3 linked regions of the Homo sapiens genome follow. The protein of the gene in region 1 interacts with the protein of each later gene in a pairwise test. Each region holds a gene or a part of one and is shown in the gene's direction. Other genes may lie near its edges.

Evidence for each region.
Region 2: the proteins of TNPO2 (region 1) and GCH1 interact in binary tests that used the Homo sapiens proteins (3 or more experiments, as listed by UniProt).
Region 3: the proteins of TNPO2 (region 1) and EXOC5 interact in binary tests that used the Homo sapiens proteins (3 or more experiments, as listed by UniProt).

Annotation. Positions count from the first base shown.
Region 1 is NC_000019.10:12,710,433-12,714,085, reverse strand, and holds part of TNPO2 (transportin-2), read left to right. Parts: intron 1-2,472; coding exon 2,473-2,533; intron 2,534-2,624; coding exon 2,625-2,790; intron 2,791-3,312; coding exon 3,313-3,465; intron 3,466-3,653. UniProt on the Homo sapiens protein: Probably functions in nuclear protein import as nuclear transport receptor. Serves as receptor for nuclear localization signals (NLS) in cargo substrates.
Region 2 is NC_000014.9:54,843,827-54,847,479, reverse strand, and holds part of GCH1 (GTP cyclohydrolase 1), read left to right. Parts: intron 1-349; coding exon 350-381; intron 382-1,627; coding exon 1,628-1,712; intron 1,713-3,336; coding exon 3,337-3,463; 3' UTR 3,464-3,610; coding exon of another isoform or gene 3,611-3,653. UniProt on the Homo sapiens protein: Positively regulates nitric oxide synthesis in umbilical vein endothelial cells (HUVECs). May be involved in dopamine synthesis. May modify pain sensitivity and persistence.
Region 3 is NC_000014.9:57,230,893-57,234,545, reverse strand, and holds part of EXOC5 (exocyst complex component 5), read left to right. Parts: intron 1-513; coding exon 514-558; intron 559-662; coding exon 663-803; intron 804-1,796; coding exon 1,797-1,879; intron 1,880-2,830; coding exon 2,831-3,040; intron 3,041-3,653. UniProt on the Homo sapiens protein: Component of the exocyst complex involved in the docking of exocytic vesicles with fusion sites on the plasma membrane.

The DNA of each region.
Region 1 (3,653 bases):
CCTTGACAAACTTGGATTGCTTGCCTCTCTCCAAATCATTTTTTTCTTTTTTATTTTGAGACAAGGTTTTGCTCTGTCATCCACGCTGGAGTGGAGTGTCAAAATCATGGCTCACTGCAGCCTTGACCTCCCAGCTGAAGCAATCCTCCTACCTCAGCCTCCCAAGTAGCTGGGATTACAGGCACATCCCACCACACCTAGCTAATCTTTTCTAAGTTTTAGTAGAGATGAGGTCTTGCTAAGTTGCTCTGGCTGGTCTCGGATCCCTGGCCTCAAGCAGTCCTCCTGTCTTGGTCTCCTAAAGTGTTGAGATTACAGGTGCGAGCCACTGTACCCAGCCCCCAGATCATTATTATTATTATTTTGAAATTTCTGTTTTTGAGACGGAGTCTCACTCTGCTGCCCAGGCTGGAGGGCAGTGGCACAATCTCGGCTCACTGCAACCTCCGCCCCTCGGGTTCAAGCGATTCTCTTGCCTCAGCTTCCTGACCTTGTGTTCTGCCCACTTTGGCCTCCCAAAGTGCTAGGATTACAGGCGTGAGTCACCACGCCCAGCATATTGTATGTTTATTTATTTATTTATTTATTTATTTATTTATTTATCATTCATTAGAGGTGAGGTCTCACTATATTGTCCCAATTGGTCTCAAACTTATGGGCTCAGGCAATCCTCCTGCATTGGTCTCCCAAAGTGCTATAATGACAGGTGTGAGCCCCTGTGCCCGGCCCCAAATTATTGATAACAGTCTAGGGCTGGGCAGACGGCTCCTGGGGAGTGATGAGACCTAGATGAGCAGGTGATGAAGGCTCTGTCACTTACAACTCTGGGCTGCAGCTGAGGGGCTGGCTGCCTAGTCTGTTTGCTCCCCTACTCTGGCTAGTCTCTGCCCTATCTCAGGAAAGTGGCCAGGAATAGGACCGCATGTCCCTGCCTTAATGTTGTGCTAGGGACCAGGCACTGTACCAAGATTTTCAGTGTATTCAGGGGTCTATAATCCACTGAGTGGCCAGGCCTGGGTCAAGAGCTTTCCTGCAGGCTGAGTGCCATGGCTCACGCCTATAATCCTAGCACTTTGGGAGGCTGAGGCAGGAGGATTGCATGAGCCCAGGAGCATGAGGCTGTGGTGAGCTGTGATCGCACCAGTGCACTCCAGCCTGGGTGATAGGGTTACGTAGGGACCAGCCCCACAGGGTCGGTGGGTCTCTTCCTGTGTGCGGCGATGAGAGAGTGTAGAAATAAAGACACAAGACAAAGAGATAATAGAAAAGGCAGCTGGGCCCGGGGGACCACTACCACCAATGCGCGGAGACCGGTAGTGACCCCAAATGTCTGGCTGCGCTGTTATTTATTGCATACAAGGCAGAAGGGGCAGGGTAAAGAATGTGAGTCACCTCCAATGATAGGTAAGGTCACATGGGTCACGTGTCCACTGGACAGGGGGCCCTTCCCTGCCTGGCAGCCGAGGCAGAGAGGGAGAGTAGACAAAGAGAAAGACAGCGTATGCCATTATTTCTGCATATCAGGGACTATTAGTATTTTCACTAATTTACTACTGCTATCTGGAAGGCAGAGCCAGGTGTACAGGATGGAACATGAAGGCAGACTAGGAGTGTGACCACTGAAGCACAGCATCTCAGGGAGACGGTTAGGCCTCCGGATAACTGCGGGCAAACCTGACTGATGTCAGGCCCTCCACAAGAGGTGGAGGAGCAGAGTCTTCTCTAAACTCCCCCGGGGAAAGGGAGACTCCCCCACTTTCCTGGTCTGCTAAGTAGCGGGTGTTGTTCCTTGACACCTTTTGCTACCGCTGGACCATGATCCGCCTGGTAACGGGCGTCTTCCCAGATGCTGGCGTCACCGCTAGACCAAGGAGCCCTCTGGTGGCCCTGTCCGGGCATAACAGAAGGCTCGCACTCTTGTCTTCTGGTCACACCTCACTATGTCCCCTCAGCTCCTATCTCTGTATGGCCTGGTTTTTCCTAGGCTATGATTATAGAGCGAGGATTATCATAATATTGGAATAAAAAGTAATTGCTACAAACTAATGATTAATGATATTCATATATAATCATATCTAAGATCTATATCTGGTATAACTATTCTTGTTTTATATTTTATTATACTGGAACAGCTCGTGTCCTCTGTCTCTTGCCTCGGTGCCTGGGTGGCTTGCCGCCCACAGGGTTAGACCCTGCTTCTTAAGAAAAAAAAAAAAAAACCTTTCTCTGGAGGCAGGAGTGGTATCATTTATATCCTAATCATAGCGGCAGAGACTAGATTCCGATAATTCCCCAGAGGGAAATGGATCAATTTGCACCTAGCAGTACCATCATGCTCTGCAGGGTCTGCTCTGTGGCTGATTGGGGGGCTGGTCACTCTGTTGGCACCTGTTTGCCTCCTCCCCAAGCTGTGCCTCCCCCCAACTTTTGCCACGGCCCCTGCATCCCCATAAACAGTCCCTCTCTGTGCAGGTTGATCCCCATCTTGGTGAATGGGATGAAGTACTCGGAAATTGACATCATCCTGCTCAAGGTCAGGCAGGGCCCACCCAGCATGGGTGGGCATGGGCGTGGGTGTCGCGGCTGTGGTCCCCAAAGTACTTAACAGTCTGCCTGTCCCCCAGGGGGATGTGGAGGAGGATGAGGCTGTCCCCGACAGTGAGCAGGACATCAAGCCACGCTTCCACAAGTCACGCACGGTCACACTGCCCCACGAGGCTGAGCGGCCTGATGGCTCCGAGGACGCGGAGGATGACGATGATGATGATGCTCTGTCCGACTGGAATTTGAGTGTGTGCCCCTGCCTGGGGGTGGTGGTGGGGTGGCAAGCCCTGGACTCCCTCTTGGGAGGTGACTAGAAGCTGAGGCAGAAGCTGATTAGAAGCTGATCGTGGCCGGGCGCAGTGGCTTACGCCTGTAATCCCAGCACTTTGGAAGGCTGAGGCGGGCGGATCACGAGGTCAGGAGATCAACACCATCCTGGCTAACACAGTGAAACCCCGTCTCTACTAAAAATACAAAAAATTAGTCGGGCGTGGTGTCGGGCGCCTGTAGTCCCAGCTACTCGGGAGGCTGAGGCAGGAAAACGGCATGAACCCAGGAGGCGGAGCTTGCAGTGAGCCGAGATAGCGCCACTGCACTCCGGCCTGGGCGGAAAAAGTGAGACTCCGTCTCAAAAAAACAAAACAAAAAAAAAGAAGCTGATCGTGAAGATTCTGAGCATGATCTCTGATCCTGGGAGTGCAGTCAAGGAGGGTCGGCCACCTGCCTGAGGGGCCGCCCTGAGCCTCCCCATTGTTCCCCCTTCCCCAGGGAAGTGCTCAGCGGCTGCACTGGACGTCCTCGCCAATGTCTTCCGGGAGGAACTGCTGCCCCACCTACTCCCACTACTCAAAGGCCTCCTCTTCCACCCCGAGTGGGTGGTCAAGGAGTCGGGCATCCTGGTGCTGGGCGCCATTGCTGAGGGTGAGTGCGCCTGATCTCTGAGCCCTGTGCTGGCATGAGACTGTAGGGCTGGCCCACATTACTAGCCACACCAATGCCTCAGTTCTCCCTGGAGGCCTACTCACCCCACTCCAAACAGCTCTGAGATCTCAATTCTCCCCTTGGTTCCTGGGCCTGAAAGGAACCCCTGGAGCCCCACAGTGCAAGGC
Region 2 (3,653 bases), on another chromosome or scaffold:
TTTCATATATTTCTGCCTGCTTTGTATTCGCTGGCAGCTGATGAGATTGTGCCCACCCAGATTAAGTGTGGGTCTGCCTTTCCCAGCCCACTGACTCAAATGTTAATCTCCTTTGGCAACACCCTCACAGGCATACCCAGGAACAATACTTTGCATCCTTCAATCCAATCAAGTTGACTTTAGACTACATCTCCCTGTGGTACTTGTATCTTTCTGTCATCTTGCCATAAGCTTTATTTCCTCTTGCAGCCCACTTGCTTCAACAATGTCCTTTTTGTTTTATGAGGAAGGCTTATCAATTTTACTTCAAATGATTTGTGATTAACTAAAACAATTCTTTCTTTTCTAGGATTGTAGAAATCTATAGTAGAAGACTACAAGGTAAGCTTTAAAAATCTGTATTAACAGAAAACATTTTTCTTTTTTTTCTTTTTTTAAATTTTTATTTTTGAGACAGAGTCTTGCTCTGTCACCCAGGCTGGAGTGCAGTGGTGCAATCTCGGCTCACTGCAGCCTCAGCCTTCCAAGTAGCTGAGATTATAAGAGTGCATCACCATGCCTTGGCTAATTTTTGTATTTCTAGTAGAGACGGGGTTTCACCATATTGATCAGGCTGGTCTCGAACTTCCGACCTCAGGTGATCTGCCCACCTTGGCCTCCCAAAGTGCTGGGATTACAGGCATGAGCCACTGTGCCTGGCTACAGAAAACATTTTTCCTACACAAAAAGTATTTTTTGTTTTATTACTAGTGCGATAAGTATGACTTATAAAAATGTAAAACCTCTTAGGACTATAAAAAGTCTACTGTTTCAAGCTTCCAGAAGAAATCACTGTTGTATTTGCACATTCCTTCACATTTTCATGCATATACCTGCATTTTCAAATCAATTTATTTGGATTATGTTTAAACAAAAATGGGCTCATTTTATACATAATCAGCCTTGCTTTTTTCCCTGCTTTTTTTCATTTAACAAATCTTAAACATTTTTGCCACATCCATGTAACTATCTCATTCATTCTGGTGGCTGTCTAGAATCCTACCGTATATGCCATGGCTTGGCGTAACCTATACCAGCTCTGATAGATACTGGGGGGTTTCATCAGTTTTCAAATAGATGCAGTGCTGCAATGAATATTCCTGTATGAATTAAAAGACAAGTCATTTTATTCAGGACAGGAACTATATTATTTAGGTTAAATTGTTGGTTTTCAACATTGCTCTAAGCACAATTCAATAATTGGACTGCAGCCCCTTTGTTAACCCTGTTGCAGGCTATTTATTTGCTGCACTACTTTACCTCCATGGAGGTGCTTGGTAACCAGTACTGTGTTGTTCTAACTGCACAGGTATGAGATAATTGCTATTCTAATTCCTTCCCGCAGTGATGCTGGAGGGCTTCAGGGTGTTCTGAGATCTCTTTAGCCCTGTACTTCAGGTGAGGGAGTTGAATCCGGGCCTCTCTGTGGCCCAGTCAGCAGACAAAGCAGTCTGGTAAAAGCTGGTGTGTCTTGGCTCTTAAATCTCACAGAAGTCTGATTTTTAAGATTTCAAATGTTCTAGAGACAGAAAAAGCTTCCAGCTGTTTGTGTCAGACTCTCAAACTGAGCTCCTTATCACATCCACAGTTCAGGAGCGCCTTACAAAACAAATTGCTGTAGCAATCACGGAAGCCTTGCGGCCTGCTGGAGTCGGGGTAGTGGTTGAAGCAACGTAAGTCTGCATCTGCCTTTAGTAACGTCATAATGGTGCACTAGAAGTGATCTTGCTATTTAGTGCTTCTCATATTTTGTAGCACCAGGTGATGCCACACAACTGATATGATAACTGTAGATTTCCATCCCTGAGCCTAAAGCTCTTTTACCACTTTCATTTACTGTTACTGATATAGGAACAGAATATGGGAGAAGTATTTTTTGAGGGTAGGATGGGGCTTGTGGAGGCATAGGGAGTTAAAAGCACAGGTGTAGAGATTTGCATAATCAATAGCCTTTTTTTTTTTTGAGATGGAGCCTCACTCTGTCGCCCAGGCTGGAGTGCAGTGGTGCAATCTCGGCTCACTGCAACCTCCACCTCCCGGGTTCAAGCGATTCTCCTGCCTCAGCCTCCCGAGTAGCTGGGACCACAGGTGTGTGTCACCATGCCCGGCTAATTTTTGTATATTTAATAGAGATGGGGTTTCATCATGTCGGCCAGGCTGGTCTCGAACTCCTGACCTCATGATCCACCCGTCACGGCCTCCCAAAGTGCTAGGATTACAGGCGTGAGCCCCTGCGCCCAGCTCAATCGCCATTTTTTAAAAATGCTCAAGACAGGGTCTTGCTCTCTCACCCAGGCTGGAGTGCAATGGTGTGATCTTGGCTCACTGCAACCTCTGCCTCCCAGGTTCAAGCGATTCTCCTGCCTCAGCCTCCCAAATAGCTGGGATTACAGGTGCCCGCCACCACACCCAGCTAATTTTCGTATTTAGTAGAGATGGGATTTCACCATGTTGGCCAGGCTGGGGATCTCAAACTCCTGACCTCAAGTGATCTGCCCACCTCAGCCTCCCAAAATACTGAGATTACTGGCGTGAGCCACCACGCCAATAGCCATTTTTATGTCTTCTCTTGATTTTATGTCTTCTCTTGATTTCTTCTTTAGCTCTCTGTTGCTCCAAGCCGAGTTTTTCTAATATTTTGTCACACATTTAAAAAATAAAGCCAAGAATTGGTACATTTCTTTAAGTTAGGATGAGTTAAGAGAATTGCAGCTGTTGTGTGGACAAAGTTCATATGTGTTCTGTGACGTGGTGTGAACTCTGTTCTATGTCTGGTATCTAATGTCACCAGGTTGCTCAGACAGGATCTCTGGTCACCATTATCTGAATTCTGCCTGGTGACATCAGTATACTTGAGCATTTATCTGAACACCTAGGCTAGCATAGTGCTGTCTTGGTCCTGAAGGCAGAGCAAGTGAGAATTCTGACTTTCTTTTGATCTAGAAGTTAAGTAACTCTGTAGACCTTTTATATTACTTTCACCCCAGAAGAAAATTCCATTTTTCCCCTTTTTGGATGCTTTAAGGATCAACTACTGATAAAAATAAAAGTTGCAAGACAACTTCAAGAACAAAAAGTTTAGGTTGCTGCAAAGATAATTGCAGTTTTTGCCATTATGTTCAATAGCAAGAACCGCAGTTACTTTTGCATGAACCTAATAGATAACATTTGTGTAAGAAGGGATATTTCGATATACTTGGTAACTGTGAGCTGAGATTTAATCTTTAGGCCTGCTTTTAAAAACCAAACCAGCAGCTGTCTACTCCTTTAAACAACCTGTGTTGCCTTATTTTGTAGACACATGTGTATGGTAATGCGAGGTGTACAGAAAATGAACAGCAAAACTGTGACCAGCACAATGTTGGGTGTGTTCCGGGAGGATCCAAAGACTCGGGAAGAGTTCCTGACTCTCATTAGGAGCTGAGCTTCATTCAGTGTGTGTGCGTTGGTTGCCGATCGTACTGCCAGTAGCATTGTCTGTCTGTCCGGTCTTGTTTGTACATTCCATTTTCAATTGTTACAGATGTGAACTTTATTCCTTGTCACTAATTATATTTAAAATTATTTCTAGGAAGTCAAATAAATATAATAAAGGGTTGAGCCCTCTACTTTCT
Region 3 (3,653 bases), on another chromosome or scaffold:
TATATATACACACACACACACACACACACACACACGTATATATACACACTTTAATATATATAAATATATTTATATGTATATAAAACACATACATATATATATGTAAAACCTTTTCCCAAGACCTTGACTCTCTGTGTATGTGTGTGTTTGTGTGTATGTGTGTGGGTGGGTGTGAGTGGGTGTGTTTTGGAGTTGAAGGAGATGGCTAGATGATCATAGGACAAAAATTACTCTAAAGAACTCAGTTACATACTTCATCTTTCTTGTTTTAGTCTAAAGTTCAACAAGGATATGTACCAACTGATAAATTTTATCATAGAAAGTGACTAGGGAGACGATACCTTTATCAAGTTACTGGTTTTCTGCAGTTAATTTTATTTAAGTCCAACAGGTGTTGCTATTGGCCATTTACTGGTAAATAGTCATAGCTTTATGACATATAACACTTCTTTTTTTGAAATAATAATTATTATAATTGAATCAGAATAATAACAATGTGTTTCTTCCTTGTAGGGTTATTCCCATTGTGTTGATGTTTATATAAAGCAGTGCCAGGAGGTAACATAACAGTACACTTTGTTGGATATTATTTTATGCTAATTGTTGTTTTAAAATCATGTAGAAATTATATGTTCACTGTATAAAATGTCTCTGCTGTTTAGGGTGCTTATTTGAGAAATGATATATTTGAAGACGCTGGAATACTCTGTCAAAGAGTGAACAAACAAGTTGGAGATATCTTCAGTAATCCAGAAACAGTCCTGGCTAAACTTATTCAAAATGTATTTGAAATCAAACTACAGGTAATTTTAAATAGTAACAAATTAAATAGTTCTTAAAGCAATATGTAATTTTTTCCCTATATTTTAAAAGTATTTTTAAAATTTAGTTTACTTATGTAATGACCTTAGAAATAGTAATCTAGTTAAGGAGAAAGGAATCCTCATGCTTTTTAAAAAATGTTTTGTATTCACCAAGAAGAAAGTGCTAATCAATAAGTATCATCAGAGAACATGCTTGAAATTTGTGTAGTATTCGTAGTAGTAGTATAATATATTGTGGTAAGATAGCCTTGAAGATTTTTCTTTTTTTTTGGTCCCTGCCTTCACCAATAGATGTCATTTGTGAAACTGAACAAGAATTACAAGAGCAGTCTGTAGAATTTTTAATAATATGGTACTAACCTGAAAAGGGAAAACACAGAAATTTAATTTACCCCCATATCACTGTACTTTCAGATAACATTTCCTAAGCTGTTTACAACTGGATTAAACAACATTCAATAAATGTTTGCTTTTTTTTTTTTTTAACACAATTCAGGAATTTTGATAGTATTGTCATTCTCTAGAAGTGGGGATGTAATGTACAGCATTTCACACATTTACTGTCTAAGAAACCCTGTTTTGGAGTAATGCCTATAGACATCTGAAGGAACACTAGTGTTACCTGGAACTCAGTTTGGGAGATGCTGCCTTAAGGAATTGACTCTATTGTTTGTACTCTCAGTTTTGTTTTTTTGATGCACCTCACAGAGCAGAATAGGCCAATTTAACAGAAAAGGTATTATTCCTAAGACTGATAAAGATCCTCTACAGGTAAATATGAGAAGTGGTAAAATGTAAAAACCTGTTTTAAAATATTTTATGATTGGTTTGTTTTCTGTAATTGCCTTTTTGATTGGATTGTAAGTCAGAAAGGTTCAAAACTGTGGAGTGAATTTTAAAAGAAAAATATCTTGAGAAGTTGTAGAATTTAATATTTACCTAATTAACAGAATGTTAACCTTTTTCTTTTAGAGTTTTGTGAAAGAGCAGTTAGAAGAATGTAGGAAGTCCGATGCAGAGCAATATCTCAAAAATCTCTATGATCTGTATACAAGGTAAATTTTTAATGATTAGAAAATAATAGATAACAGATTTTTTAAATTTTTTTGATAAAAACAAGGAAGTATTCAGGTATTTTTGAATAAGTTTGTCACCAGTTTACCTTTTAGCATTAAATGCTTAGCTGTATAGACTAGTTATATTGTACAAGACTGTATTGTACAACATTCTTAATACATTAACGTCAGGAATTGGATGTTATGCTTTATTTTTTCTCTAAGCATTAGTGTAATTACATTTATCTGCAGTCAAAACTTTAGAAACTGCAAAAGGAAGTGATGTAATCTTAACAAATGACAATTTCAGCTCTAAATCTTCTGTAGGAATTTGTCTTGTGCTTTTGTAAATGTCAGTGTTACTCTTAGAGATTGTCTCAGAAGCTTCATATGGAGTCTTGTGGGGTTTTTTTTTTCCTTGACTTTTCCCAACCCTATTACTCTTCTTCAGTGTCTTCATTTTGGGAGAAGGTTTTTCCAAAGTTACCGTAATGAGGAAGTCCATCTCAACAACAACACTGTTATGACCCTATCTTCAGCAATGGGAAATAGAAAATTAGAGGGAAAGTCCACAAGGACAAAACAAAAGAGGGTGAACAGACAGTAGATCTTTCAGTACTCTGTTTTGGGTCCCATGTGATGAATGGCATTAGACATACTTGAGGCCAATCTGCCACTGTCGCCATTTCTGGACTAGTTAATTGCCTCACAAGTTCTTTTCCTAGGAATTTATAACAGTTCTCAAAACCGTAAAGTTGTTCGTAATATTTCACTGTATTTATATGTAACCCTGTAGAGTTGATCTCTGCATCATAAGTACTCTCCCAGAGTTTAAGAAATGGTGGCTTAACATAAGTCATGAAAGTCACGTTGTAAAAATTTGTATTCCTTAATATTGTTACTATACCTAAAATGTATATTAATCTTTTTCTCCCCCTTTTTCATGAAAAGAACCACCAATCTTTCCAGCAAGCTGATGGAGTTTAATTTAGGTACTGATAAACAGACTTTCTTGTCTAAGCTTATCAAATCCATTTTCATTTCCTATTTGGAGAACTATATTGAGGTGGAGACTGGATATTTGAAAAGCAGAAGTGCTATGATCCTACAGCGCTATTATGATTCGAAAAACCATCAAAAGAGATCCATTGGCACAGGAGGGTGAGTATTTTTGTTAAATACTTCTGTTAAAACTGAAGACATTAATAACTTCATTATATTTGGGCAAATTATCAAATGTTGACTATCATTAGAATTTTCTGTGAAGAGTTCTTTTAATCCAGATTGTTATATTATTGATCAAATCTTGTTCTTAAACCACATGTTGAAATGACCTAACATAACATGATTGAAATGTAAGCCGGGCGTGGTAACTCACTCCTGTAATCGCAGCACTTTGGGAGGCCGAGATGGGCTGATCACCTGAGGTCTGGAGTTCGAGACCAGCCTGGCCAACGTGGTGAAACCCCATCTCTACTAAAAACACAAAAATTAGCTGGGCGTGGTGGCAGACACCTGTAATCCCAGCCATTAAGGAGGCTGAAGCAGGAGAATCACTTGAACCTGGGAGACGGAGGTTGCAGTGAGCCAAGATTACGCCACTGCACTCCAGCCTGGGCGACACAGCAAGACTCCGTGTCAAAAAAAAAAAAAAAAGTAAAGTAGATATTTGTCAATTAAAAAATAATGTTTTAAAACTATCGAGCAGAACACTAGTAATATAAAAAGTTCCATAGTTTCTTTCATTTTTTTTTTTCTCGATAGAATAAGTTCC